Linked DNA regions of Homo sapiens. The protein of the gene in region 1 interacts with the protein of each later gene in a pairwise test. Each region holds a gene or a part of one and is shown in the gene's direction. Other genes may lie near its edges.

Region 1 (7,800 bases):
AGATGATCAGAGCTGGCTGGCAGACACTCTGGAACAGAGGCCTGAGGTTGTTATTAATGTCATCCTCCTATATTTCCTACTCTTTGCCTTCCAGGCATGTGGTGGGATGGCAGCTCCCTGTTCCCTTGTGATTGGGAGGTGGGGTAACCTGGCCAACAAGGTGTGAGAAGTGACATCTGTCATTTGGGCTGGAGCACTTAATTGCCAGATAGAGATCTCTTTCCCTCTGCCGTGGCTTCTGACGGCCTTTGAGATGGCAGCTGCTCCATCACCCCCAGTCCTGGAGTAAGGAGACATGGGGACCCTGCCAGCCCTTGACGGGTAGTAGCGTGCATGAGAATGACACTTCCTATTAGGAGCCACCAAGATTTCAGGGTTGTTTGTTGCTGCAGCATAACCTGGCCTACCTTAACTCACACACATCTCCAAAAAGCAAAACCAAGATGGAGCTCAGAAATAGCATGAAGGACATTGTGTTTGGAGACCAAATGCTCATAGTGGACATCTTTGGTGTTCACGCCACAGGAGGGACTGGAAGTGGCAATAGAGTTGGCCCTTTGTGGGGCCTTAGTACCGTTAGGGCAAACCTCAGAGAAAATCCATCCAAACTCTTCCCTGGCCAAATACGGAGACTGAGGTCCAGAAAGGGCAGGGCTTCACAGCATGCTATAGTAGAGGCTGGCACAGAACCTGCTAACAATAGACTGCCTCCATTTCCCAGTCTCCCATGCAGCTCTATGTGGCCATGTGATCAAATTTTTGCCACCTAAGGACTTCTTTGTGGGTTTCTTAAAGAGAAATCTGTGACTCAGCTGCACTAGGGTAGGAGACTCCTAGAGGTTCAGAGCCAAGGCCTGGCCTTACCACTCTTGGGGTGTGTTGCCTTGGGCAAAGTGCTTCACTCTGAAGCTGGGAATTATGGTGAACAGATGAGATCAGTGTATGCCCAGTGCCCAGCAGAGCACCCAGTGTGCAGGAGCTCAATAAATGCTACGCTTCCTGTTATTATTTCAATTCAGCAGTAGGAACAAAGCTGTGATGACATAAGCCAGGGTCTTGCTGCACTACCCAGATTCCATGCAGAGGGCTGGAGTGTAGAGCAGCTCCTTCTCTGCCCAGCCGACATTCTCTCTTCTTCTGGGAAGAGCATCTCTATTTTCACTCCAATCAGATGACTGTTTCTGTGACATGTAGCCATGAGAAAGTAGGAAACTAACATTTACTAAATGCCAGCTGTGTCCTAGGTACTTCACATGGTTACCTCATTTAGTCTTCAGGATAAGTCTATAAAGAAGGTAGGTGTGGAAACTACAGCTCAGAGAGGTTTAGTAACATGTGCAACATCACAGAGCTGGGACTCAGATCGGATGCCCCAGCCCAACCCATCTTTTAAATAAGGGTCAGCCATTTAAGTTTCTAACTGTGATTGACTTTTCTAGGAGGGGCATTTATTCACTCAGTCAATATTTACTGAGGCCAGGTGTGGTGGCTCACGCCTGTAATCTCAGTACTTTGGGAGGCCAAGGTGGATACATCCCTTGAGCCCAGGAGTTCAAAACCAGCCTAGGCAACATGGCAAAACCCCATCTCTACAGAAAATACAAAAATTAACCAGCTGTGGTGGCATACGCCTGTGGTCCCAGCTATTCAGGAGGCTGAGGCAGGAGGATTGTGGGAGGCTGAGGCAGGAGGATCTTGGGAGGCTGAGGCAGGAGGATCGTAGGAGGCTGAGACAGGAGGATCACTTGAGCCTGGCAGACAGAGCAAGACCATATCTCAAAAAAAAAAAAAAAATTTACTGTGAGCCTGCTATGTGCCAGGCATAGTACTAGGCCTCAGGGTTAAGACAAGCCCCTGCCATCATGGAGCACCCATTCCAGATGGCATGGAGACTTCACCTCATGAGCCAACTCTAGGTGACGGTAGCTGCCTGCAGCATTATGACGAGAGGATCCGGAGAGGCCTCTGGGCCCAGCAGGAAGGACATTAGTGGTTGATTACTCAGGGTGCCATGGGTGCTACCAGGGAGTTTCTGAGTGTGTGCTGTTTACTGGCCACCCAAAGTTTTAGACTTGTTCATACAAATATATAACAAAGCAGAAATATTGTCTGGTCAGAGCACAGTTCCACTCCTTATTTTGAAAAGAGTAACTGGCTGGGTGTGGGGTCTCACACCTGTAATCCCAGCACTTTGGGAGGCTCAGGCAGGCAGACTGCTTGAGCCCAGGAGTTTGAGACCAGTCTGGGCAACATGGCAAAACCCTGTCTCTACAGAAAATAAAAAAATTAGCCAGGTGTGGCAGTGTGAACCTGTCGTCCCAGCTAATAGGGAGGCTGAGGTGGAAGAATCCTTTGAGCCTGGGAGGTGGAGGCTGCAGTGAACCATGATTGCACCACAGCACTATGGCCTGGGTGACAGAGCGAAATGCTGTCTCAAAAGAATGACCACTGTAGAGCTAATAACTTGGCCCTGCCCTCAGGGAACTTAGGGTCTAACTAGTAGCCTAAAAGGTACACATGAGTACAAGATGATGATTATTAAAGAATGGAACAGGAGCGTCTGATCCAGAGTCAGAGGCGGGAGAGGCCACATGGATGTGGGGGATCCCAGAGGCTTCCTGGAGGAGCTCAGTGGTGGATGTGGCTAGGTGGGTGGGGGCAGGAGAAGGTGTTCCAGGGGCAGCAGCAGGACAGGCAAAGGTATGGAGTCAGGGCAGGTAGGAAGTGGGTGTGCAGTGGGGCAGGAATGGTGGGGCTCCCAGTCCAGCTGAGGCAGAGGTGCTGGGGGAGTGCTGAGGAGGTAATAAAGGGAGTGGGCTGTGGAGGTCTCCATGTCAGCCCTGGGAGTTTAGCCCAGACCCTGAAGCAGGAGGGAGCCACTGAAGAGTTCGAGCAAGGGCATGCCCAATGAAAGATATTTCCAGGTGGCTGGAAGTCAGTGATGGGTGGCAACTATCCAAAGAGGGAATAGAAAGAGAGTCCCTGTAGGTATTAAATAGGTGGGAGTTAGGGGACCTGGGCTCCATGCTGACATGCTGGGACCACAGGCAAGCCCCTTACCTGGAAGGGCCTGCTTCCTCCTCCCTCTTCTATAAAGGCCCTTTCAGGTCATGACTGAATGAAGTGAGGTGGGGGAGGAGTGGCTTGGTTTAGTTAGGATCTCTATTTTCCACTTTGCTTTGGCCTTGGACACCTGACCTAAGGTGGGTCCATCACCCACGTTACCTCAGCTTCAGGCCCACACAGCTTACTCTGAGGTTGCCCCACACCTCAGCTTTCTGAAACAGTATGTCCCATAGAAGAGAAGACATGAACTTGGCCCACTTTCCAGCTAACTTGAGAGAGAAACTTTGCCTCTGTGCCTCAGTGTCCCCACCTGGAGGAATGGTGTGAGTCACACCTACTCTGCAGGGATGGCATGAGAAGCCATTGAGATAATGCCTTTAAAGTGCCAGGGGTAGAATCTCTGTGCTCTCTGGGAGTAAGTGCTGAATTAGTGGCAAATGTCTTTCTTGTTATTATTCCTATTGTGTGTTTCCTGTGTGGGACTCTGGGCTGTAAGCTCTTCATTGGCAGGCACAAGATCTGACACCCAAGGCTAGTGCAACTCTGCCAGGTGGGTCATGGGAACTGTGACGTAGGCCTGCCTGGCCCAGGAAGCAGCCCAGATACTGACACACCCTGAGTGTGTACAGCGTCAATCCTCATGGGACTGCCCAGCACACGAGTCCCTCGTCCCTCCCCAGGCACCCAGTGCGACAGGCACCCTCACCCAACCAAACCCACCAGGATCTAAACTAAATTCTTCCTCCTTTTCTGTTCAAATTTATATAATTATTTTTGGAATAAGTAGTACATTTAAACTTTTCAAAATTTAAGACACCAAAAATGTGCCATAAAAAAAAAAATCTCCACCTCAGCACACAGCTCCTTAGGTCTGCTCCCAAGAGACAACCACTCTAAATTCCCATTAAAATAATCAAACTTAATTGCTTCCCCCTTACAAAAGTCATGAGCATTCAGAGCAAAAGCTAACTTAAAAAAAAAAAAACCACCTTGGAACACACAAAAGTACAAACTGAAAACCTCACCCTCAATGCTGCCATTCAGAGATACTCAGCATTTTAGCGTATGTCCTCCTAGACTGCTTTCAACGCACATCCACTTTACAAAAAATGAAAACAAAATGCAAGAAGAGATTCACAATATTGATTTTTCAACATCTCACTAGAATCTCAGAAATGTTTCCTCATACCTTCTTCCTTAAGTGACTTTAATAGCTCTGTGATCTTCCACAGACAATGATTTATTCAAGCAGACCACAGAGATGGGCATTTGGGATTTCTACATTTTCCTTACTAGAAGCAGCAGTGATGGATGGGCCCTGTGACTCCACTGTAACAAATTCCTAGAAGAAATGCTGGGTCACAGGATATGACCACTTTTTAATATCCTGGCCTAGACCCCTAGATACCTATCACAAACCGCCCTCTAGCCAACTGCCTCGATCAGCAGGACTAGGTGTCCAACCCAAATTTAGAGCTATTTAAGAAAAGGCCAAGAAGTCTTGGTTCATAACCGTCTGAACAGCAGCTGTGAGGGCCTTAATCCCACCTCCAAATCCAGACTAAGGCCAAAGGCCTCCTCTGGGCTGGCAACCTGCCTTGTTTACCCAGCCACAGCCCTCACCTGTGCCCATCCCAGTCCAAGGTGAGTCAGCTGAACAGGGGACAGGCACCACCCTTCCCAGATCAGGAAGCCAGCTGAGAGACAGGGCTACGTTTCAGGGAGGGAAACAGATTCAGCAGCGGCAGCAGCTGGAGAAGGTCGTGGAGCAGCACCTTGCCTGCAGGTAAGCGCTGGGGGCCCTGACCCAATCCTGGCTGGGATTGGGATGAGTGAGACCTGCTCTCACCCTGTCCCCTTCCCTCCCTGCCCCTTCCCTTCTGGGACTTCCCAGGCAGCTTCCTTTCGAAGTGCTTCACTCCAAGCAGTCAAGTGTGAAGTGGGGTTTCTTCTTCTGATCCCAGCCCTGGACCAAGTTTGATTAAGGGCTGAGTGATTTTCTTCACCCAGACATCATGAGGGCCCCCGATGCCTTCTGACTGCCCATGACTGTGCTCAAGGAGATGAGATCCACACTTTGCTCCTTGAAAGGCCAATTCCAGCCGAAACCAGAGGCTGCAGGCAGGCAAAAAGCCCATTTCTCCCAAGGAATCCACAGCTCAGGCCGACTTCTCTGGCCTGAGGCTGTTTCTATCAAAAAACCTTCCTGCCACAGCACTGAAACACCTGCTGGGGAACTGCGCCAGGGGCTTCACCTTTCTAAGAACTGGTTTCTTCATCTGGAGACTGAAAATAGCCCACAAAGTCAGGAGAATGGAAGGACATACTGGACACAGGAGCCAGTGCATGCCCTCCTCAGCAGGGTCTCAGAAAATGGGGCAGAAAACGAGCCTGGTATGGGCTGGGCGAGCACTGGACAGGCAGCTTCACGTACAGTGGCCCAAGCTCATGACAATTCCACCACCATCACTTCCCACCTGGGCTCCTGCTCCCACTCCTGCCCTGTAGCCCATCCTCCAAACATCAGCCAGAGGAGGCCTGTCAAAATAACCCTTGGACCTTGGCACTCTGCTGCTACAAATCCCCCAGTGGCTCCCATCTCACTACAGTAAATGCCAAAGTCCTCACCATGACCTCCAGGCCCTCCAGGATCTGGCCCCTCTCACTTCTCCAGCTTCCTCCCCACTACTCCTCCTTACTCCCTCTCTGCACAACTGGCTTCTCACTGGCAGATGTCCTCTAAACACAACACCAACTCCCACCTGAGAGGCTCTGCAATGGCCGTGCCCACCCCATTAGGCCTTTCCTCAAATGTCACCCCACCCAGCCAGCAAGGCTTCTGAACCTCCTGACATGACCCTCCGTCCTGCTCTTTCTCTCCAGTGCCTCCCACCATCTAACACAGCACACAGAGTCACAAAGCCTATTTATCCAGCTCTTCCCCCAAAGAAAGTACATTTGGGGACCAAGTCTTCTTTCCTTCACTGCTGATACCTAGAACAGTACTCAGACTTAGCAGGTGCTGAGTAAGTAAGCGCTGAAACAATGAATAAACAGCTAACTTTTACTGAATGCCTATTATGTGCTAGGTGCTGTGCTAAATGCTTTCCATATACACCTTAACTCTTTTTAAAAATCTTTCAGTCTCCAGACAACTGTGATGCAACTATTGTTATCCAGATTACAAAGGAAGAAATGACATTCAAAGGGGATTTGCCTATGCTGTGCTCTCACAAGTCAGAAGCAGTCAGTCTGAACCCTGCCCTGCCTGGGCCTGGGTTCAGGCGTGTCTGCTTGAGGAAGTCACAGCTTTTCCCCAGCAGGCAGTGCAGCACTGAGAGGAGGAGTGGGGGTACATGCTGGTGGCCTAGCAACAGCTTCTTCTATTCCGACTCACCACATCCCTGGGCTAATTTGGCCTTCCAGGAGCTATTCCTCTGACACTCTAACCCACGCTTCCCTCCCGCGCACTGTCTTGTAAAGGACGGATGAGCTGTCCACAGGAACGAGTGGGAGTTCCATCACTTCAGCTCTTTGGAACAAAGTGTTCCAAAGAGTGTTCTCACTCTAAGTTCAAAGATGGGGGCTGAAGTCCCCTTGTCAGCCCTGCTGATCTCCGAAGCCCAGCTATTGGTTTGTTGTGGGTGTTGTTATTGCTTATATCAAAAAGTACAGAAGCTCAGGGATGGAAATCTGGAAAGGGCTGTGGGAGAGGAAAATTCCTCTGAGAGAGAGGGGTTAGGTGGGTTCTTTTCCTTTCGGAGGAACCAATTACTTGTGGGAAGCCATCAGCACAGAACTGAGCAAACTTCCACTGTCAGATTATAGGAGCCAGGCAGCCTTTCAACCTAACTCGTTAGGGCCATGGTTTCTCTCCTTTTCCAGGCCCAGGTTATTCTTCGAAAGACTTTCTACTTATTGACTGCAAACACAGACAGGCATGGGAAGAAAGACTGTATATTTAGGATATCAGGCTTTCTCTTCTCTCTGTGCCTGCTTTTCCACTCCTTTCAGAAATAGTAATGGGATGCCTGTTGTGTGCCAGGCACTGTGCTCAGCACTGGGGGTTAACAAATGAGTGACATTTCCTGACCAGTGAGGGAGATGAGCAAACAAACACAGCACAGTGGAAATCCAACCTAGGAAATGCAGAAGGCCTTGCTCATAGTAGGTGATTAACAAACACTTGTGGAATATATGATGAAGAGGCAAATACAAGAAATGCTGTCGTCTAGAGAAGGGAGGCTTGCCAATCTCCATGCGTACAGGTGGGGGAAAGCTTTAAATTGGAGGAAAAAGAGTTCACAACAAGGAAAAGAGAGAAGGCATGAATGACTCTTAAGACAGAGGGAATAGCACCTGCAAAAGCATGGAGGCATGAACTAGCAGGCTGACTTTTAGGACTCAACCTAAAGTAGTCTGGAATAAATGAACTTCATGATAAGTGTGGAGAAGAATGAGATGGTGAGAATGGAAACATTACCAGAAGTCAGGTCACAGAGATTTGAGGGCAAGAAGTAGGTATGGCTTCAGAAGGGAAAGGGAGGAGCTGAGGATAACTCCCAGATTTCTGACATAGCCCATGGGTGGATTCAGTGAGACCGCTGGGGAGGCGCGGCACAGCTGGGGAAAATCACGAGTCCAGTTTGGATAATCTGCGAGGTAAACGGGATCCAGAAGGCAACTGGACTCTCAGGCCTGGGCCTCCCTGTCCCTGGAATAGCACACTCTCTT
Region 2 (7,024 bases), on another chromosome or scaffold:
CATAGAAGATACCTATCTGAAAGCTTCTCTAGCAGTTTACAATTCTATGATATCATTAGTTATTTCCTAGATTATCATGTAATCTGAGAAGAAAATTTGAAAATGGGATAATACAGTAGTAGCATCACTTAAAGTACATATTTCATGGAAAGAATTGAAACGAGTGGTAAGGAAGGTTTAATTATAATGCCATAAAAGAAAAATATAAATTTGATTTACTAAAATGCTTGATGTTTGAACAGGGTATTTAAAGGATCCACGATACCAGGAAGTGGACAGGTAAGTCGGGTTCACTCTTGCCTAGTTTTGAATTACATTCTTGGAACTAGTTTATGAATTACCTGAATTTAGTTTCACAAATCTTATTCCCAACAGACGATTTTCAGGAGTTCGCCGAGATGTGTTTTTAAATGGGGTAAGCATTTCATTTTATCTATTTAATGTGGATAAAATCAGGCTCTGATTTATTTTGCAGTTCTGTGATAATTTTTAATTATATTGACATTATCATCTTTTATTTTAGTCCTACAATGATTATGTGAGGGAATTTCATAACATGGGACCACCACCACCTTGGCAAGGAATGGTTTGTATTATTCTATTTTTATAAGTTACATAACTTAATTTGCAGTTCTAGTATTTCAGGTGCTTACTCGGAATATGATTGTTACAGTTACTCATTAAAGAGACTTAAACTGGCCAGGCGCCGTGGCTCACACCTGCAGTCCCAGCACTTTGGGAGGCTGAGGCGGCTAGATCACCTGAGGTGAAGAGTTCGAGACCAGCCTGGCCAACACGGTGAAACTGAAACCTTGTCTCTACTAAAAATACAAAAAACATTAGCTGGGTGTGGTGGCGTGTGCCTGTACTCCCAGCTACTCGGGGAGGCTGAGGCAGGAGAATTGCTTCAACCCAGGAGGCAGAGGTTACAGTGAGCCGAGATTGCGCCACTGCACTCCAGCCTGGGCAACAGAGGGAGACTCCATCTCAAAAAGACTTAAAATACAGATTTTTGATGATAAATAATTGTATGCTGTCTTTCAAACTAAAGACTAAAAGCTCATTTGTGTTAATAGTACAGGCTTGAGAACTGTAATAGTGTATTATGGTAGTAATTAGTAGTGCAAAGTCCGCTTGGGTTCAGATATATTTCTTTTTCTTCCCAACTCTGTGACTTTGGGTTAATTTCTTAATACAACTCTTAGTTTTCCTCATCTGTAAAATTCCATGGGCATTCACTGATGCTTTGTCTTATCAAATATAATATTTAGTACTTACTCTGTGCAAGGCACTGTGCTTGTTCTGATTATATCATGGTGAATGAAATTGACATCATGACTGTCCTGGTATAGCTTAAAATTTAATGTAGTAGTGTCATTTTCATTGTCAAGATAAATTTACAAAGTACATGTTAAGTTTAGCATAGTGCCTGATCTAATACTCACTAAATTTTCTGTGTAAAATAAGATTAATTAAACCCTGATTATTCCTGCTTTTTAATTATTTCCTTTAAGAAAACTGAATTGTCTTAGAGTATATTTTAAGATATTGAAGATAGCTGAAGCATTAATTTTCAAGAAATAAAAACCTGGAAGTTGAAGTAGCTTCTACTGTTTTCTTACATTTTAATTTATGTCTTTTTTTAAATGCAATATGTTATATGGCCTCTTCATCTGACTTTTGTTTCACTTTTAAGGTATACAGTTTTATACTATTATATGCAGATGATTATGAGACTTTTCCCCTTTAGATTCTAGGAAATTTTAAAAATTTAATAATATATGATCTTGATAGTAACTATGAAAGTAATCTTTAATTTACCCTTTATTCATTTTTTAAATGGCATTTAAAAGTTAATTTGCTCCTGGACTTTTTTTTTGAGAGACAGGGTCTCATTCGGTCTCCCAGGCTGGAATGCAGTGGTGTGATGATAGCTCTGTGCAGCCTTGAACTCCTGGGCACAAGTGGTCCTGCTGCCTCAGCTTCCTGAGTAGGTGGGACTACAGGCACATGCCACTGTGCCTGGCTAATTTTTTTATAGAGACAAGGTCTCACTCTGTTACCCAAGCTGGTCTCCAACTCCTGGCTTAAGGGATTCTTTTCCCTCAGCCTCCCAAAGCACTGGGATATGGGCGTGAGCCACCACACCAGGCCTGTTGATGTTTCTAAGAACAGATACATACAAAGTGGTTAACCAGTTTACCAACTGCAGAACTAGGATGCCTGATGCCGTATGCCTGCTTCACCACTTTAACAGTAGTGTGACTATAAGCAGGTTACTTAACTCCTTGTTGCTTCAGTTTTCCCTTTTGTAAACTGGGAACAATAGTATCTATCTCATAAGGTTGCTGTGAGAATTAAATGAGACTAGTAAAGTGCTTAGAACAATGCCTGGCTCACAGTAAGCACCATGTAAGTGTTTGCTATTTCCATTGTTATTTATATGATAGGAGTAGAAAAGCATAAACATGTTAAATCTTAGAAGATGTGTAATTTTCGACAAAAAGCATATTTTGAAACACCTTAATGCCATCAAAGTAAATGTCTAGTACAGATTCACTTGTTTGGGATTGGTGTTTTGGATGAAGGGTTCTAAGAATCGCTTGTTTACAAGGGTGTTGGTAGATTCTTAATGTAAATGGTTTTCCTTTTTTAGCCCCCTTACCCAGGAATGGAACAACCTCCACACCATCCTTACTATCAGCACCATGCTCCACCTCCTCAAGCTCATCCCCCTTACTCAGGACATCATCCAGTACCACATGAAGCAAGATACAGAGATAAACGAGTAGTAAGTGCACAAGGAGGCAAAGGTGTGAGGGAACTACTTAGAATTCTGTAGGTAACTTAAATATGGGGAGACCAGAGTATGATGATTGACGGACCATTGCATATTCTTACTGCAGACTGTTTTGGAATAATTGTTTGTTTTTATTAAAAATGCCTGATTATGCCCCTTTGGATTATATAGATAGAATATATTTCTTTTACTGATCAAATCACAAACTGCTTAAGGCAAACGCCTACAAATAGAACTCCTTTTAGGTAGTACCTAGGCTATGTTCTTTCCATATTGAGATCTTAATTATGCTATGTAATTAATATTGTTAATAGATATTTCTGAACTTTTTGTGTATTCTTACTCAATTTTTCTAGGATAGATCGTGTATATTAAGTTAGCTGATAAGCTGTAATCTCATTTAGTCATTTGTTTTTATTTCTACCAAATGTTAAAGCTAGTAACTGATAAATTGTTTTACCTCTGGTTATTGTGATGTTAGCAAAGAATAACCAGATGTTATGATATGTAGCAGACATGTCCTTTATTCATTGATTCTGTTAATTATTTGATAAGATTGATGTGAAAGCTTTTTTTGATGGCTTCAAAACAGGACCAGTGAAAAAAAGACTCTAGTTTTAGTTTGAGTTTTCTGGGTTTTTAACTAGTGGGGCTGAGTTTATTAAATGCTTCCCCACCCCCCCCAATAGTACTTTTATTTATAAAGCAGAATTGTCTTCTGGCAAGTGTTGGAAGCATAATTCATATGCATATAAGTTTGATAGCCTTAGAAAGGTAGTTTTGTTGTTAAACTAAGTAGGATATGCAAGTTAGAATTTTTTTCCACTCCCTACTTAGGTTGATGAGTCTGTATGGGGCCAAATAAACATCTTTTTATTTTCCCACTTAAGATGAAGAGTGGGCCTATTTGTGAGAATCAGAGCAGCTTTCTAGCCTATCTTTGAGACATTTTTTTGTGTTGTCAGTAATTTCCTTATAAAGATAGTAATTTTCTCTAAATCAAATCTTATCATGACTTCTAACATTCTGTAAAATAATTTGAGAGTACTAGTTAACTAATTCACAAACTTTAAATTAGTAGTTTATTTTCAGTTAAGCACACAAGAAAGAAATATACAGTCTATCTATAATGAAATCTTAGTTGACTAGATGGGTTGTGGTGTCTTAAAAATTCCCATAACTGATCACATGGCTTTTAAAATAGGAAGTCTGAGATTTTTTTGTTTTCCTCAACTATATCCTTTTTAACAAGTTCTATTTTATGGATCTTTATGTAGTGATTTTTTGGTTAGTATACATATTCTCTACTTACATAATCACATATATAAAAGGTAATGTGGGACTGTGTTTTCAAATCTTATTTCAGCTAAGTTTTGAGAGAAGACCAAAATCAGTAAGGTAAGCTGAGAACTAAGAGTAGAAAGTTTAAACTAGAGCAGGGGCCAAGTTTAGGAGCAGCCACAACTTTTCTTGCACATCAACTTAGTTGTAACAATTTAGTTTGAAAGAAAATCTGGAACATAATACTCAGTTTGTAAAATTGAAGTTGGTAGAATTGGAGGAAAAATGTAGAGCTAGCCTGTGCCAGAAAAACATTGATGACATTTAGCATAATTGGCAGTATATATGGATAATAGTTGAAGGTCATCACTAGTTAATATCTTTGGCCTAAATCTTACTGAAGGGATCAGATGGAAAAGTCATTAAAGTTAAGTGGAAAACTGCATAAAGAGATTTGAATAATCTGTTGTAGATGTCTAATGAGGCATCATCCTTTTTCTAAACCATGTCAGCATATTACCTTCTGTGAATTAATTTATTATTGCATTTCTTTGGATTGTTCTCTCCGCCGATTATAATACAGAGACTTTTCTTTTTTTATATTTTAAAATTGTTTATATAAATTTTTTTTTCAAATCAGGGATCCACTTAACACTATTTGCCTTTTTGACATACCTAACACATTTCTTTCCTTTTCTAGCATGATTATGATATGAGGGTGGATGATTTCCTTCGTCGCACACAAGCTGTTGTCAGTGGCCGGAGAAGTAGACCCCGTGAAAGAGACCGGGAACGAGAGCGAGACCGCCCTAGAGATAACAGACGAGACAGAGAGCGAGATAGAGGACGTGATAGAGAAAGAGAAAGAGAGCGATTATGTGATCGAGACAGAGACCGAGGGGAGAGAGGTCGATATAGAAGATAATGGGCTTTTGGAAGCACTGATTGTTTAAAGATACAAAAAATCTTGTATTTTTTTTTTGTGTGTGTTTACAAGTAGTAAATTTATTTTCAGCTGTCTGCCTATGAAGTTCATTGTGTAGAAGGATTTATTATGACCCCCTTTGTTCCAAGCATGCAGTATCATAAGAACTGGAAAAACTCAAATCCGCCAAAAATCCACAGCTGACAGTTGAATTGACACTTTTATTGGGGCAGAATGGAACAGTCCAAGAATGTAGATACTGATTCTTTCTCCATAAATGTTCTTATAGTGTGTTCATCCTAGAGTTATTTTTTTGTTTGTTTTTTTCCTTTTTGGATCTTGATTGATAACTGCCATGATATTTTGCTTTGATGTGTTTCTACATGTAGTTGCACACGGTTCAGTAAAAATAATGCTGCTATCGAGTATGCAAATATTGAAGTATGATGGTTTGACTGTATGGCAGTGTTGTAGCAGCCTCTTGTTTTTTTCCCCATTGCCTCTTTTTTTAAAAAACTTATAAAGTCACTTTTTATTTTTCCTCAGTCTTCAATGACGAGAGCAATATTAAGAAGACATTGCTATCTAATTTTTAATCTTTTTAAATGAAAAATTCCTATGTTCAGTAGCGTGGTTGATGCTATTGTTTAGCCTTCCCCTCCAAATTGTATACATTGGCTTGGAATGTTCACAACTTGCGTGCGTGGCAGCGGAAGACGATTCCCATATTCTACATTGCTACTGTTTTGTATAAAATAAATTGGTAAAGATTGACGGTTATCTTTTGTATCTTTTTCTTATCCAATTGCAGGTTTGTTTTATTATGCAATAATGGACATAAAAGCATGCTTTTTGTTCAGGAATTTTAGGAACCCCATTTGCTTTTTTTGAGGCACACTTTAGCAGAAATGATTGACCTAGGCCTGTTGCATTAAAAGCTTACTTCTATTTCTAACATAAGATACACAGAGTTATGTTAATAATTTGGTTAAGTATTTATACACCTGATAACATTTTGAGTCTACTCTGATCACAGAATCGTTTATTTAGGTTTTCTATTTGTTGTTTTAGTCTTCTGTAAGTGAACGACTTTGTACATGCTTTCTACTTTACTTCATAAATGGACTTTTAACCCTCTTGTATTAGTTCTGTATTTTAAGTTAACTGTCCAGTTCTCCCAGTGGTAACCAACTATAACATAGAAATAGAGCCGCTCAAGAAAACAGTTTATGAAATAATTTTTTTGAATTTTTTCTTGAGTTACACCTGGAGTTTTGGCCTTTGGAATTTGGCCTTTATAAACATTAGGAATATTTGAATGTTTGATTTTTTTATAGTATCAACAGTTGTACTGTGTACCAGATCACATAGTACAGTTTTACATTTAATCTATATTGGCCTGAAAAGAACAACACAGGCACTTTACTCTTAAAGGATATAATAAACTATAGTTATACTGCATTCATATTCATACCAGCATGTAGTATCTTTCCCTGCATTCACAGAAGTTTTATTTACAATGACAAAACTAAAGCCTGAGGATTTGTTTTAAATCTGCATTGTGGTAGAGAGGAAAAAGTACTTTTAAGGAAACCTGGGTTCTAGTTTTGTCATTGTCTTTAATTAAACCGGTTAGTGATACATGGTAAGTCACTTCATTGGCATTTTGTGTATTCATCAGTAAGCTAGACAAGATGATAGCTACAGTTTAAGAATTTCTGTAACCATTATACAAAACTGGTAGGTAATATTAAAGGTATTTTCCTGAAATAATAGGAATAAATACTGAGCACTTTGTATGCAATAGAGACTTTGTGCTTTTATATACAGACTCATTTAAATGGGCTCAGAGAGGCTAGTAAACTTGCCCAAGATTAGAAAGGTAGTAATTGATGGGCCAAGATTTTACCCATGTTTTTATTTGGTGTTTCTAAACCACCTCATCACTTTTGAAAAAACAGTATATAAATTAATAAATGTTTTGGAGATGGAGTCTGTCGCCCAGGTGGAGGGCAGTG
Region 3 (7,024 bases), on another chromosome or scaffold:
GCCGGGTGTGGCAGCATGTGCCTGTAGTGCCAACTACTTGGGAGGCTGAGGTGGGAGAATCACTTAAGCCCAGGAAGTCATGCCACTGCACTCCTGCCTGGGTGACAGAGAGTGGGGTCTCAGAAATAAAAGAAAAAGAATCCCAGCACTTTGGGAGGCCGAGGCAGGTGGAGCACTTGAAGTCAGGAGTTCGAGACCAGCCTGGCCAACATAGTGAAACCTCATCTCTACTAAAAATACAAAAACTAGTTAGGCATGGTGGCGAGTGCCTGTAATCCCAGCTACTTGGGAGGTTGAGGCACGAGAATCGCTTGAACCTGGGAGGCGGAGGTTGCAGTGAGACGAGATCATGCCACTGCACTCCAGCCTGGTTGACAGAATGAGACTCTGTCTCAAAAAAAAAAGAAAACTGAGTAGCTGGGATTACAGGCTCCCACAATCATGCCTGGCTAATTGTTGTCCTTTTAGTAGAGACAGGGTTTCACCCTGTTGGCCTGACTGGTCTCAAACTCCTGACCGCAAGTGATCCTCCTGCCTCAGCCTCCCAAAGTGCTGGAATTACAGGCATGAGCCACCACACCCGGGCAGAAATAAAGTTTTTTAAATGGCCAAGACTAAATTGTAATACCTAGGAATGCACATTTGGGTAAAAAAAAAAAAGCTACTTAAACACAAAGAATAACTGTGAAAAGATAAAGTCCTTCCTTTCAAACGTTTTGCCAAAATAGAAAAATGTAAACATTTCAGAAATGCAGAACGTGTTTATTATAAAAGCTGAGGTAGGGGTTGCATATACTGGGGGGCAGGAGGGAACTATTCCTGGGATGAGCACATAGACTCTTGGGGTGGCTGTCAAAGCTCTGTTTCCCAAACCTTGGTGGCTATTGCGTGGATGTTTGCCTTAGAATAATTCATTAAGTCACACATGTGTGTGATTTTCTGTATCCAAGTTTCATTTAAAATAAAAATATTTTAAAAGCTGGGGGCTAGCAAGGGTGTGTACACGCAAAAATACCTAGTATCTGTTAGAAGTGCTTAACCTGATACCACAGGGGTTACCTGCAGAGGAGGAAGCCTTGAGGTTGCGACTTGAAGGAAGAGTCTCAGTTAACCAGGTGAAGGTGAGGGAAAGGAAGACAGTGGTCCAGAGGCAGCTGCTTGTGCAGAGGCAAAGGCCAGTGAGAGCAGATGCGTAAAGAAGAGGGGCAGCAGGAGGCGGAGGGTACAGTGAGCCGAGATCACACCACTGCACTCCACCCTGACCCTGTCTCAAAAAAAAGGGGCAAGAGACAGAGCTGGAAAGGCCTGGGTGCTGGGGAGCCACAGAAGCTTTCATGAAGATTTGGGCTCTGTCCTCAGAGCAACAGGAAGCCCACTGTGTACATTATCCCGAGCAACAGGCATTACATTACTCTGGTCCCAGCGTGGAGAATGAGTTAGCGGGGGATGGGAGTGGACGCAGGGAGGCCAGTCAGGAGGCTGCCACAGTTGTCCAGTCTAGATATGACCTTAGCCTGAACCAGGTTGGTGGCAGCAGGGAATGGAAAGAAAAGGACAGATTTGGGAAATATTTAGGCAGTAGAATTGACAGGACTTGGTGAGGGGACAAAGGTGATGGCTAGGATTGTGCCTTGGGCAGCTAGGTAGCTAGCAGTGTATTATCTGAGGTAGGGAGGCCAATGGAAGGGTGGGTTAAAAGAAAAGGGCACATCTCCCTTGAGCTGCCTGAGAGGCAGCCAAGTAGAGGTTTCTAGCAGGCAGCTGGGTGGAGCAATCTGGGCTAGAGCTATGGATGTGGTGGTTGTCTGCAAAGGGGTGGAACTGGGAGCCATGGGCCTGGATGAGCTTGCTGAGGCACACAGTTGAGTAGAGAACCTAGAGCTGAGCCCTGGGTACCCACATTTAAGGGAGAGGCAGAGGAGGTGGAGCTGATGAAAGACCAAGAGCGCCAGGCAGCTGGGAGATACCAGGAGATGTGGAGTCACAGAGGCCAAGGAATCAAGAGGATAAGACAGCACAGTTGGCAGGTATAGCGCTGCTGAGAGATCCCAAAATACAAGGTCAGAAAGTGCCTGCAGGACTCAGTGGCACAGAAGTCACAGGAGACTCTTGTGGGAACCAGCCTTGTGGTCACCTGAGGTTTGGAGTTAGAGACCAGCCTGGCCAACATGGCGAAACCCCATGTCTACTAAAAATACAAAAATTAGCCAGGTGTGGTGGCAGGTGCCTATAATCCCAGCTACTCAGGAGGCTGAAGAGAGTCAAGGTTGTGAAACAGTATCATGGAGAGGAGGAGAGGATGTTGGGAGTTAAGAAAGTGGAAATAGGCCGGGCACAGTGGCTCACACCTATAATCCCAGCACTTTGGGAGGCCAAGGTGGGCGATCAGGAGAATCCCTTGAACCCGGGAGGTGGAGGTTGCGGTGAGCCGAGATCACGCCACTGCACTCCAGCCTGGGTGACAAGAGCAAAACTCTGTCTCAAAAAAGAAAAAAAAATAAATAAAAAAAGTCGTGAGAGACTGCATGGAACAGCAAGTCAGGAAAGTAAAGTCCTATGCCAGCAACCAGTGATGATAAAAACATGACCAGTAATGTTATATGACACATGGCCCCAGAAATGAATGATTCCATTGGTCCCCAGGAATGGATTGGAAGTTTCCTCCTTCCCCAGCTGCTGTTGAACAATAATGCGAAGTCCCTGGTGTCTGTGATACAACCTCAGGGCCGCTAGTGACTAGAGAAGGGACTGAGATATTCTTTTCTGTAACATAGAAGCCTTGTTTCCTGCTGTATAATTAGAGAGTTCATTCAGTGCTTTCAGAATTCTTTCATATCTCATTTTAATCCACAGAAGATTGGAAATTTTGTTCTTATTTAATAGATACGTAGCTGAGGGAAGTAACAACGTGTTCACAGTCACCCCACAAATTAAAGAGCAAGTCAGAGAATGACATAGACTCGTTGTTTGGTCTGATGGTGGTTCCGTCTCAAAATCGGCTGGACAAGCACAGTGTTCCATGGCTCCATGGCTGGCTGTTCTGTGACCGTAGGCAGATTCCTTAACCACCCAATGCCTCCATTTTTTCCTCTGTTACATCCAAGCCTTTCCTTTTGCCACCTTCTCTTTCTGCTGTAGGCCTGGGTTGCCAACTATGAGAGACCCCGAATGAACGCCAACTCCCTCCTGGCCAGCCCCACAGGCCTCAGCCCCTACCTGCGCTTTGGTTGTCTCTCCTGCCGCCTCTTCTACTACCGCCTGTGGGACCTGTATAAAAAGGTAAGGGGGACATACCTGCCCACATTGCACCTAAGGCCTGCAGCCAGGCCTTTTGGGCTTGTCAGTCACCCTAAAAAAGGCACTGGTGGGTGGGGGTTGGGCTATGGCCCCTGGAAGGGCCTAAGTGTGTGCAGATAGTCCGGAGGAGGAGAGAAGACTCAATATCCAAGAGGGCAGAGCCAAGCACAGAGTGAACTGCCCACCAGAATGAAGCCCAGACCATCATGTAGAGCAGAAGGACAGGCAGAAAAGCAGGCCTCAGGTGTGACCCTAGAGGTGGCATATCCTCTGGCAGCTGGTGGACAGGGGCGAGGTCCCCAGGGTGAGAGGCATGGAGAGGGTGAGGCTGGAGCCAGTCTGAAGTGGAAGAGCATAGCTGCCCGCTCTGGAGCTGTGTCCACAGCATTCAAAAGGGGAGTCCAGGAACAGCAGTTGCCCATCAGTGATGGAGGGAGTGGTGTGGAGGGGCTGCACACAGGGCTGTGCTATACAGACAAGAAGCAAATAAGCCTGTGTTAACTGTCCCCAGAAGGAGAGAGGGCAACACAGTCAGCATTCAGAGGGATCACCTCATCTTGTGCCTATGTTTTTTGTTTCTGTTGTTTATTTAAGAGACAAAGTCTAGCTGTGTTACCCAGGCTAGAGTGTAGTGTGGCCTGATCACAGCTCACTGAAACCTCAGACTCCTGGGCTCAAGCAATCCCTCTGCCTCAGCCTCTCAAGTAGAGCTAATTTTTTACATTCTTTGTAGAGATAGGGTCTTGCTATGTTGCCCAGGCTGGTCTCGAACTCCTGGGCACAAGCAATTGTCCTGCCTTGGCCTCCCACAGTGCTGGGATTACAGCCGTGAGCCACCATGCCTAGCCGTTGTGTCTACATTTGTTTTTTTGTTTGTTTTTGAGACAGGATCTCATTCTGTCACCCAGGCTGGAGTACAGTGGTATGATCACAGCTCACTGCAGCCACAACCTTTCAGGCTCAGGTGATCCTCCTATCTCAGCCTCCCCAGCAGTTGGGACTATAGGTGCATGCCACCACACCTGGCTAATTTTTTGTATTTTTTTGTAGAAACTGGGTTTTTCCATGTTGCCCAGGCTGATCTCAAACTCCTGGGCTCAGGCCATCCACCCACCTCAGCCTCTCAAAGTGACAGATGCTAGCCACCACACCTGGCTGTATCTAGGTTTTTAAATGTTATCTCCTCATCCTTGCCATTATTGAGATTTTGTGGCATGGGATAGCTTTGCCAGTTTGGTGAGTAATCTTGTGACTTTAGGGAAGTCATTATTTGCTTGGAGGTCTGATTTCTTAATTACCTTATGGCCCCAGATCCAGGCTGTGTGTATAATTTATTCAACCAAAATCTAGACTGAGCATTTTTCATGTGTGCTGATAGGAAAATTCCTTTTGACTTTCTAGAAGGTGGAGCCAAACAGGGAACTCTTGAGGACAAGGAACATGACCAGTCTTGGGAAGTTTGAATCCTAGTGCAGAGTCCTGTGGTGAGGCCCCTTCCCACTGCCTGGCCCTCTGTAGCTTTCTTCTTGCTCAGAGCAGTGGCACAGTGCAGGCAGGGCCTGGGTGTTTCACATGCAGGCATGCTGTGCCACTTCTAGGGGATAGTCCCTCCACATCTGGCAGCTGAGCCACTAGGTCTTTGGAGGGCCCAGATTCCTTTGTAGAAGAGACCTGAGAGGCACCATGCTAAGAGCTGGGCGAGTGTTTGTATCCATGTGCCACCCCTACCTCTCAGGTGAAGCGGAACAGCACACCTCCCCTCTCCCTATTTGGGCAACTCCTATGGCGAGAGTTCTTCTACACGGCAGCTACCAACAACCCCAGGTTTGACCGCATGGAGGGGAACCCCATCTGCATCCAGATCCCCTGGGACCGCAATCCTGAGGCCCTGGCCAAGTGGGCTGAGGGCAAGACAGGCTTCCCTTGGATTGATGCCATCATGACCCAACTGAGGCAGGAGGGCTGGATCCACCACCTGGCCCGGCATGCCGTGGCCTGCTTCCTGACCCGCGGGGACCTCTGGGTCAGCTGGGAGAGCGGGGTCCGGGTGAGTGCTCTCTCAACGAAAAGCTGGCCTGTACCCTCTGGTCAGGCCCGTCAAAGGGCAGCCCCCTTCTGGGCTGAGGGATGAGGTGGGATTTCTGGGTCCAGGAGATCCCCTCCAGATCCTCTGTGGCTTGCCTTCAATGGAAGGGTTTTGGCTCCTGGGGGCACTGTGGTGACTTGGGAAAAAACATGGCTGCATGTCCCCAAGGAGGCTGATCATCCCCTCCCCTATCTAGGTATTTGATGAGCTGCTCCTGGATGCAGATTTCAGCGTGAACGCAGGCAGCTGGATGTGGCTGTCCTGCAGTGCTTTCTTCCAGCAGTTCTTCCACTGCTACTGCCCTGTGGGCTTTGGCCGTCGCACGGACCCCAGTGGGGACTACATCAGGTGAGGATACAGACCAGGCTCTCTGGCCTCTGACCACTGTGGCCTCCTACTAGGATGGGATACCCTGGGCCTTTTGAAGGAGGGTCTGGGTATGCTGATGGGTCATCTGGTGTATCTTATTTCAGGCGATACCTGCCCAAATTGAAAGCGTTCCCCTCTCGATACATCTATGAGCCCTGGAATGCCCCAGAGTCAATTCAGAAGGCAGCCAAGTGCATCATTGGTGTGGACTACCCACGGCCCATCGTCAACCATGCCGAGACCAGCCGGCTTAACATTGAACGAATGAAGCAGATTTACCAGCAGCTTTCGCGCTACCGGGGACTCTGTAAGGAGACAAACACCTAGCTCACTGAAGGGAAGGACAGCACCTACAGGCTCAGGGGGCCAGATGGGGATGTCCAGATACTTGCAAAGGGAGACTGAGTGCTGTCTTTCAGGTTGACACCTTCGCTGGGTATGGGACACTGCAGGCTGGGATGAACTGGGCCTTCCTGAGTAGTTGTGGGGCTGTGGGAGGAAATGGAACCTCAGTGTCTTGCTCCTACCCTCCCCACCCCCACTTGCTTCATCCTGCCCTGTAGCCCTCTGCAATCCTGCGAGACGGCACTCTGATTACTCCTCGCCTCTCTCCCAGGTCTACTGGCATCTGTCCCTTCCTGTGTGGAAGACCTCAGTCACCCTGTGGCAGAGCCCAGCTCGAGCCAGGCTGGCAGCATGAGCAGTGCAGGTGAGCAGCAGCAACCAACCTCCTGTGGCCTCCTGTGGCCTGTGCCACCACTTCAGTCATTCAGGACTGAGGCCAGAAGGAGGCCTTGCCCAGTGGAGCTTATATTCCACCTGGGGCAGTCAGATAGTAAAGAAACCAAGTTGGATCATTTCAGATAACAAGTGCTTTGGAGGAAAAGAAAGTTGAGTATCTTGACAGAGGGACTGGGAAAGAAGGATTTCTTCTGTGTCACTTGAGATTGGAGCAGTCAGGGAACACCTCTGTTAAGCAGAGACCCACGTCATGAGCAGGAGCCAGCCCTGCCACACACTGAGAAAATAACATTCCAGACAAAGGGAGTAGCAAGAAAAAGCTCACAAACAGTACCGAGCTTAGTCCATTCAAGGAACCGAAGGGAGGTCAGTGTAGCGGCATGTCCCAGTGAGGAGCTGGAATGAGATGAGGACAAGATACAGCATGAGCAGCATGTGGCAGGCCTGATGTCCGAGACGAGGACTAGGATTCAGCCTTCAGTGCACTGAAGGATGGTCAGTAGGGCAGGGCATGATTGGACTTAGGTCTGA
Region 4 (7,123 bases), on another chromosome or scaffold:
AACAGCCATGGTTAACCTAATGCTAGATGACGAGTTAGTGGGTGCAGCACACCAGCATGGCACATGTATACATATGTAACTAACCTGCACATTGTGCACATGTACCCTAAAACTTAAAGTATTAAAAAAAAAAAAAAAAGAACAGCCATGGTTAAAGACACAATTGACAAGGAAATTTGGTTATTTCTGTGGCACACAACGATGTAACATAATAATCATAATTATTACTGATGTCATATACTAAGACATACCAGAATTACAGGAATCTCACACAATTTTGAAACACACATTAATAACTCATTCATATAAATATAACCCAAAGAAAGTTAAACACCATTTCACATTTGACAATGCTTCCTCTCCCCCACATAGCGTTCTATTCCCTTAGTGCCTTTGTTGATTTACAAATCTTCTCCAGGAGCTCCCTGAGACCAGGAATTGTTTTGTTCATCTTAATATTACTCCACACAGGATTTTGATCATCTGTGAGTAACAGGAAACCTAATTAAACAGTACTGTAGGCAAATATTGACCTAAAAGAAAGAAGCTGAGGCAAAATTAATATAGAGAATTTATTTGGGCCAAGGTTGAGGACTGTAGCCCTGGCCATATTGCAGGTTGCCTTGGAGAGTGCTCTGGGAAAAAAGGAGAGGCTCAACTTTTTAAAGAAAAAGAGACAAATCAGGGGAGAGGAACAATTACAAAAGTTGCTCATCAGGTATTCTCATTTGACTTTTTTTTTTTCTTGAGACAGGGTCTCATGCTGTCACCCAGGCTGGAGTGCAGTGGTGCAATCACGGCTCATTGCAGCCTCAACTTCCCAGGCTCAGGTGATTCTCTCATCTCAGCCTCCCAAATAGCTGGCACTACAGGCATATGCCATGACATCTGGCTAATTTTTTGTGGAGACATGGTTTGTTTGTAGAGACTCCCAAGTGCTGGGATTAGAGGCGTGAGCCACAGCACCCGGCCCTGATACTTTTCTTTTTTAGGCTAGTCAATGGGCCTCATAATTTAAAGGGGCTCACCTTCCTCAGATAACATGTTTTTATTCTGCCAGGGTTAGTGGCTCATGCTTGTAAACCCTCCATGTTTCCCAGCATGGTCTCAAACTCCTGGGCTCAAGCAATTTGCCCACCTTGGCCTCCCAGAGTGTTGGGATTACAGGTGTGAGCCACCATGCTCAGCAGGTATTCTCATTGGTTTACAGAAATAACATTGTTAGTGACTGGCCATGCACTGTTGAACTATAGGGTATATGGCATGTTAACGGCTTCTTGACATTAGTCTAGTGTATACATAGCAAGTGACTTCAAGAAGTTGTTACTTAGCTCAAGGGCGAATGAGATATTACTGCTGCTACATTTTAAATGCCTCTCTGGGCCTGATACTTTTTCTAGTGCAGGCTTGTGGTGCAGGACTGGCAGGCAGCTCTGCTCATGGCCCTGGCATGGGATCCACTAGGCGAAGCCAGCTGGGCTCCTGAGTCAGGTGGGGACTTGGAGAACTTTTATGTCTAGCCAGAGGATTGTATATGTATCAATCAGCACTCTGTGTCTAGCTTGGGGTTTATGGATGCACCAATCAGCACTCTGTATCTAGCTAATCTGGTGGGAACTTGGAGAACTTTTATGTCTGGCTAAAGGATTGTAAATACACCAATCAGCACCCTGTGTCTAGCTCAAGGTTTGTAAATGCACCAATCAGTGCTCTGTGTCTAGCTAACCTAGTGGGGACTTGGAGAACTTTTACTCTAGCTAGAGGATTGTAAATACACCAATCAGCACTCTATGTCTAGCTCAGGGATTGTAAACGCACCAATCAGCACCCTGTCAAAACGGACCAATCAGCTCTCTGTAAAACAAACCAATCAGTACTCTGTAAAATGGACCAATCAGCTCTCTGTAAAATGGGCCAATCAGCAGGATGTGGGTGGGGTCAGATAAGGGAATAAAAGCAGGGTGCCTGAGGCAGCAGTGGCAACCTGCTTGGGTCCCCTTCCATGTTATGAAAGCTTTGTTCTTTTGCTCTTTGTAGTAAATCTTGATGTGGCTCACTCTTTGGGCCCGTGCTGTCTTTATGAACTGTAACACCCATCGCAAAGGTCTGCAGCTTCACTCCTGAAGTCAGTGAGACCACGAACCCACCAGAAGAAACAAACTCCGGACACATCTGACCATCTGAAGGAACAGACTCTGGACACACCATCTTTAAGAACTGTAACACTCACCACAAGGGTCCATGGCTTCATTCTTGAAGTTAGCGAGACCAAGAACCCACCAATTCCGGACACAGTAGCACAGAGGCTGTGGGTGGTTTGACTAGAGCAGGCCCTAAGAATGGTGGGACATAGAAGCCTCGTTTCAGGGGTTTGAGGAGTGGGAAGTGAAAAACTAGAGACTAAGAGTGCAGACCATTTTTTTAAGCCACTTGGTTCTGAAGGGAAGAAAAGAGTGTGGAAGAGGATTTGGGGCAAGGCAGGATTTTTCTTATGATAAGGAATCCATCAGAGAGGGAAAAATTGAAGTCTGAGAAGAACGATTGTTCCAAGGTGGAAGAGCCACATTTTATTTTTGATTGAGGGTCAAAAACAGAGCCTTGGACTGCCTTGCGGTCTAGAATGGGTGTGTGTGGGGGGGTGGGTGGGGGGTTGGATGGGGGAAGATCACTGGGTGGGGGGTTGGATGGGGGAAGATCACTAGTAGTTAAAAGCAAGTACGCAGCATTGGGAATGAACCAAACTCGTAGGAGGCACAGCCCACTCAGTGTGCGGGCCCGGGCGAGCTGCAGGCCTGAAACCCACCCACCCTCTTAGATGTGTCTGTGGGCCATAGAAATTACTAGGGTTGTCTTGGGTGTGGCCTCAACCTGTTCAACAACAGGTGTGCTGTTTCCATTCTGGAAACCAGTCCTCTGTCTTCCAGAACAGTGATTCTCAAATTTTAGCTGGCATCAGAATCCTGGGAAGGGTTTGTTAAAACACTACTAGGCAGGGTGAGGTAACCTAAGAGCTTTTGGAGGCCCAGGTGAGAGGGATCACTTGAGGCCAGCAGAGTTCAAGAGCAGCCCAGGCAACACAGGGAGACCTCTTCTCTACAAAAATACTACTACTACTACTGCTAATAAAAGCCAGGCACCGTGGCTCACACCTGTAATCCCAGTGCTTTGGGAGGCTGAGGCTGGAGGATGAATCACTTGAGCCCAGGAGTTGGTTTTGGTGAGCTATGATCGCACTCCTGCTCTCCAGCCTGGGCAACAGAGATAGACCCTGTCTCTGGAAAAAGAAAAAAAAAAAAAGCAAGTAACAAAGATTTCTAGTCCCCACCTACAGAGATTGTGCCTCAGTAAGTATAAAGTGGGGCCCAGGATTTCTAACATGTTCTAACGTGCATTTCTAACGTGTTCTCCTGCTTTTTTTTGGCCCCTAGTCCGCACTTTGAGAACCGTTGTCCTAGAGAAAACGGAATACTCCAGGAAGGTTCTGGAAGAATAGGTAATGGGCTTTGGCACTCTGCCCTGGAAACTAGTCAAGTCTCATGTTAATCGGAGAAGGGCAGCACTGTACCAGATACATCCTCTGTGCGGGTTGGTCCAAGATGACCAAGTGGCAGCTGACAAGCACAGCTATGAGGAAGGGTTAGACACAGTTCCACATCAGACCCATGGGAAAAGGGCAGGAGAAATGCGAGAACCTTTTAGAAGGAATGCTCCAGGGAGTCTTTGGGGGCAGTCACTGAGCTGGGCCTGGAGGCTGAGTAGGGTCCTAGAGGAGGGAATGGGTCAGGTTTAGGGGCTGGAAACAGCATTCGCAAGGCAGCACCAGCACCAGCTAAAAACCTAGCCAACAGGGAAAACAAAGTACGGAAACACGCATGCGTTCACAGTGCTGCGTGAATTAACCAAGCGTTGGCGCAAACGGGAAAGGTTCCCCGGCCTCTCTTGGTCAGGGTGACGCAGTAGCCTGCAAACCTCGGCGCGTAGGCCACCGCACTTATCCGCAGCAGGACCGCCCGCAGCCGGTAGGGTGGGCTCTTCCCAGTGCCCGCCCAGCTACCGGCCAGCCTGCGGCTGCGCAGATCTTTCGTGGTTCTGTCAGGGAGACCCTTAGGCACTCCGGACTAAGATGGCGGCGACGGCCAGGCGGGGCTGGGGAGCTGCGGCTGTTGCCGCCGGGCTGCGCAGGCGGTAGGTGACGAGCCTGGAGCTCCGAATAGGTGTGCCGCTGGGCTTAGCCAGCGGAGCGGTCGCCGCCTTGCAGACCCTCTCTCGAGGCGGGTGGGTAGTGCATCTGATGGAGCCGGCGGGTCCGCCCTGTCGCCGTAGTTGGGGGTGAGCCCTGAGGCTGTCTGTGCGGGAGCTCGGCGCTTCTGTGGCCTAATCCGGGCGGACTCTCTGGAGCTTCCTCTCAGGCTCAGAGACCCAGTTCTTGAGTCTCTGCGGTACGGAAGCTTGTAGAGACTGGCTGTAGAGCCAGAACGGAGGAGCTGTTTTAAAATCGTGTGCCTCTCCCGCCCCCAGGCCCTCTACCGGGTGCATTCCCTCCTCTTCTAAACGCAGAATCAGAATGTCACACAGAAGGGAAGAAAATACCTTGTCTCGTTTCCTCATTTTCCCAGTAAGGCCCTGAAAGAGGAGGTGACATGTCCAAGGTTACACAGTTTCTAAGTGATGGAATTCCGACGAGAACCAGGACCCCTAGATTCCCTGCACCCACCACCATTAAGCCCACTCTGTTCCCTTGTTTTTTCCGCCTCCCTGAGCCCTACCTTTGAGTTTCACCTTTCAAAGACTTCTGTGAACATTGCTAAGAGGACATTTATGTAGGTGTACCTTAATTTTACGTCTGGAGAAAATGGCCTACGGAGAGTTTGCCCTCTAGAGTATTAGACATTGTAGTGTTAATGGTGCTCTTGAAGTTTAAATGTATATCCTAAAAAGATTTAAGTTGGTAGAATTTTTTGTTAGTTACCTCCTGTGTTTGAGTAGATGTCTTCCTTGAATAATGTAATCCACTCTTACTTTAAAAAAACAAGACTTTAAACCTGTATGTTGGAATGTGCTTCCTCTTTATTCATTCTGCTGCCTTTTCCCTGGGCTGAAGGGACGAGAATATTATTCTTCTAGTGCATTTCCAAATTCCAGAGTATTCACAGATTTAGATACTGAGCTATAGAAAAAGGCATTTTTACCCCAAACCTTGAACTGCACTCAATTAGTAATTATTGGGCACCAATTAAATAATGGTAGCAGCTGCCATTTATTGAGCACTTACTGCATGGCCTGGCACTGGTTTAAGCACTTTACATGGATTCTCTGGATTATTTATGAGGTAGCTGTGAAACTAATCTCATTGTAGAGATGAAGAACTGAGGCCATTGTGCTAGCAGCTAGAAATGAAGATAGTTTCTCCCCTTAATGAGTATGCAGTCTAGCAAGAAAAATATATTAACAAATAATGACAGTCATGAGTGCTGTAATAGATTCATGTAATTTAAAGTGGTGTGCCGGGCGTGGTGGCTCACGCCTGTAATCCCAGCACTTTGAGAGGTCAAGCTGGGCGGATTGGCTGAGGTCAGGAGTTCGAGACCAGTCTGGCCAACATGGTGAAACTAAAAAAAAAAAAAAAAAAGCTGGGCGTGGTGGTGTGTGCCTGTAATCCCAGCGAGTTGGGAGGCTGAGGCAGGGGAATTGCTTGAACCAGGGAGGTGGAGGTTGCAGTGAGCCAAGATCACGCCACTGCACTTCAGCCTGGGTGACAGAGTGAGAAAAGCGAGATTATTTCCATCTCAAAATAAAGTGGTGACAGCTCTTACTGTGATCAACACTGGAGCTAGTGTGGGGAGTGGCAGTCAGGACTTCACAGATTATTTGATTCCCATTCAGTGTTGATTCCATTGTTCTCTTGAATCCTCGGTGCCAATCCTTTTATCTCTCCAATAGCATCTAAGAAACTCTATGGGTTACAGTCCCACAGTATCCCAGTAGTCTTTTGCTTATCAATGGCATATAAAGATTATTGAAGGTAGTAAACAGTTCATCTGTATTTTGTTAATACTTAATTGGTGCCCACTCTTTCTTTTCCACGAGAAGAATTCCAGTTTTGTGAGAGAGAGAAAAAAATGTGGCAGCCGCTGTTGCTTCTTGCCTATTTTAAGCAGAAGATAATTAGATAAATGTGATCTTGTGTATGATCACAAACAATTTTGGCCTTTGGAAAAAATTTTAACAGAAAATTATGACAGTGAAAGACCGTTCTAACTGACCATCATTTTGCCTTTAACCTCTAGACTGCCCATTCCCGGGCTTGGGCCAAGCTAACTTTGGGAGACATTTAGTTTATAGTTTAAATGATAATAGCCCTTTCCCAAAATTAAACCACCTTTATAAAGCTAATGAAAGACCACCAGGTTTGGAGGATGAGAGGAGCCTGAATTCTGCTAAGGTGTAGATGTAAATGATTACCAGCCATTATTCTGGCGGTCCTAAGAGTTGCAACTTCCCCAATTACTCCTGCAGAAAACATCTCTCTTGTAGAACCTAAGATTAGCCTTTTCAGGTTTTTGCATTTCTGACTGGTCCTGTGGCCCCGCCCACAAACGGGCTGAGCACTCAGGAGGATCATTTTCCGCACCCCTATGATTGCATCCCCAACCAGTCAGCAACACCCGTTCCCTGGCCTGCCAGTCTATCCTTGAAAACCCCTAGCCTCAGATCCAGAGAGACTGAGTACTAAAACTCCACTCTCCCTTTCAGCTGGCTCCATGTGAATTAAACTCTTTATTGCAAATCCCCTGTCTTGATGAATTAGCAGTATCTGGACAGTGGGCAAAGTGAACCCATTGGCAATTATAAATGACTCCTGTACTTAAAATTTTTCTATGGCTCCTATGAAGTGGCAGTGGTAATGGATAGCGATGATATTTTCAAGTAAACCGGATTTTAAAGTAAATTGCATTGGGATTTTAAGAATTTTTACTATTAAAGTCTCCTTTTACTTCCTTTTCCAGTAATATTTGCTTTCATTTTCTTCCTTTGTTTTCAGTTTGTCAAAGCCATAAAAAATAGCCAATTAAGTTTTCTCTGTAAGAGTGAAGTAAAGTTAGAGGCCTGGCGCTGTGGCTCA

The links.
Region 2: the proteins of SDCBP2 (region 1) and YTHDC1 interact in binary tests that used the Homo sapiens proteins (3 or more experiments, as listed by UniProt).
Region 3: the proteins of SDCBP2 (region 1) and CRY2 interact in binary tests that used the Homo sapiens proteins (3 or more experiments, as listed by UniProt).
Region 4: the proteins of SDCBP2 (region 1) and NFU1 interact in binary tests that used the Homo sapiens proteins (3 or more experiments, as listed by UniProt).

What each region holds. Positions count from the first base shown.
Region 1 is NC_000020.11:1,326,137-1,333,936, reverse strand, and holds the start of SDCBP2 (syntenin-2), read left to right. Parts: upstream 1-4,797; 5' UTR 4,798-4,852; intron 4,853-7,800.
Region 2 is NC_000004.12:68,312,081-68,319,104, reverse strand, and holds part of YTHDC1 (YTH domain-containing protein 1), read left to right. Parts: intron 1-242; coding exon 243-279; intron 280-351; coding exon of another isoform or gene 352-375; coding exon 376-415; intron 416-523; coding exon 524-586; intron 587-2,656; coding exon 2,657-2,791; intron 2,792-4,781; coding exon 4,782-5,006; 3' UTR 5,007-7,024. UniProt on the Homo sapiens protein: Regulator of alternative splicing that specifically recognizes and binds N6-methyladenosine (m6A)-containing RNAs.
Region 3 is NC_000011.10:45,864,474-45,871,497, forward strand, and holds part of CRY2 (cryptochrome-2), read left to right. Parts: intron 1-3,138; coding exon 3,139-3,279; intron 3,280-5,032; coding exon 5,033-5,344; intron 5,345-5,579; coding exon 5,580-5,731; intron 5,732-5,856; coding exon 5,857-6,059; intron 6,060-6,368; coding exon 6,369-6,461; intron 6,462-7,024. UniProt on the Homo sapiens protein: Transcriptional repressor which forms a core component of the circadian clock.
Region 4 is NC_000002.12:69,434,423-69,441,545, reverse strand, and holds the start of NFU1 (NFU1 iron-sulfur cluster scaffold homolog, mitochondrial), read left to right. Parts: upstream 1-4,110; 5' UTR 4,111-4,123; coding exon 4,124-4,185; exon of another isoform or gene 4,186-4,275; intron 4,276-7,123. UniProt on the Homo sapiens protein: Iron-sulfur cluster scaffold protein which can assemble [4Fe-4S] clusters and deliver them to target proteins.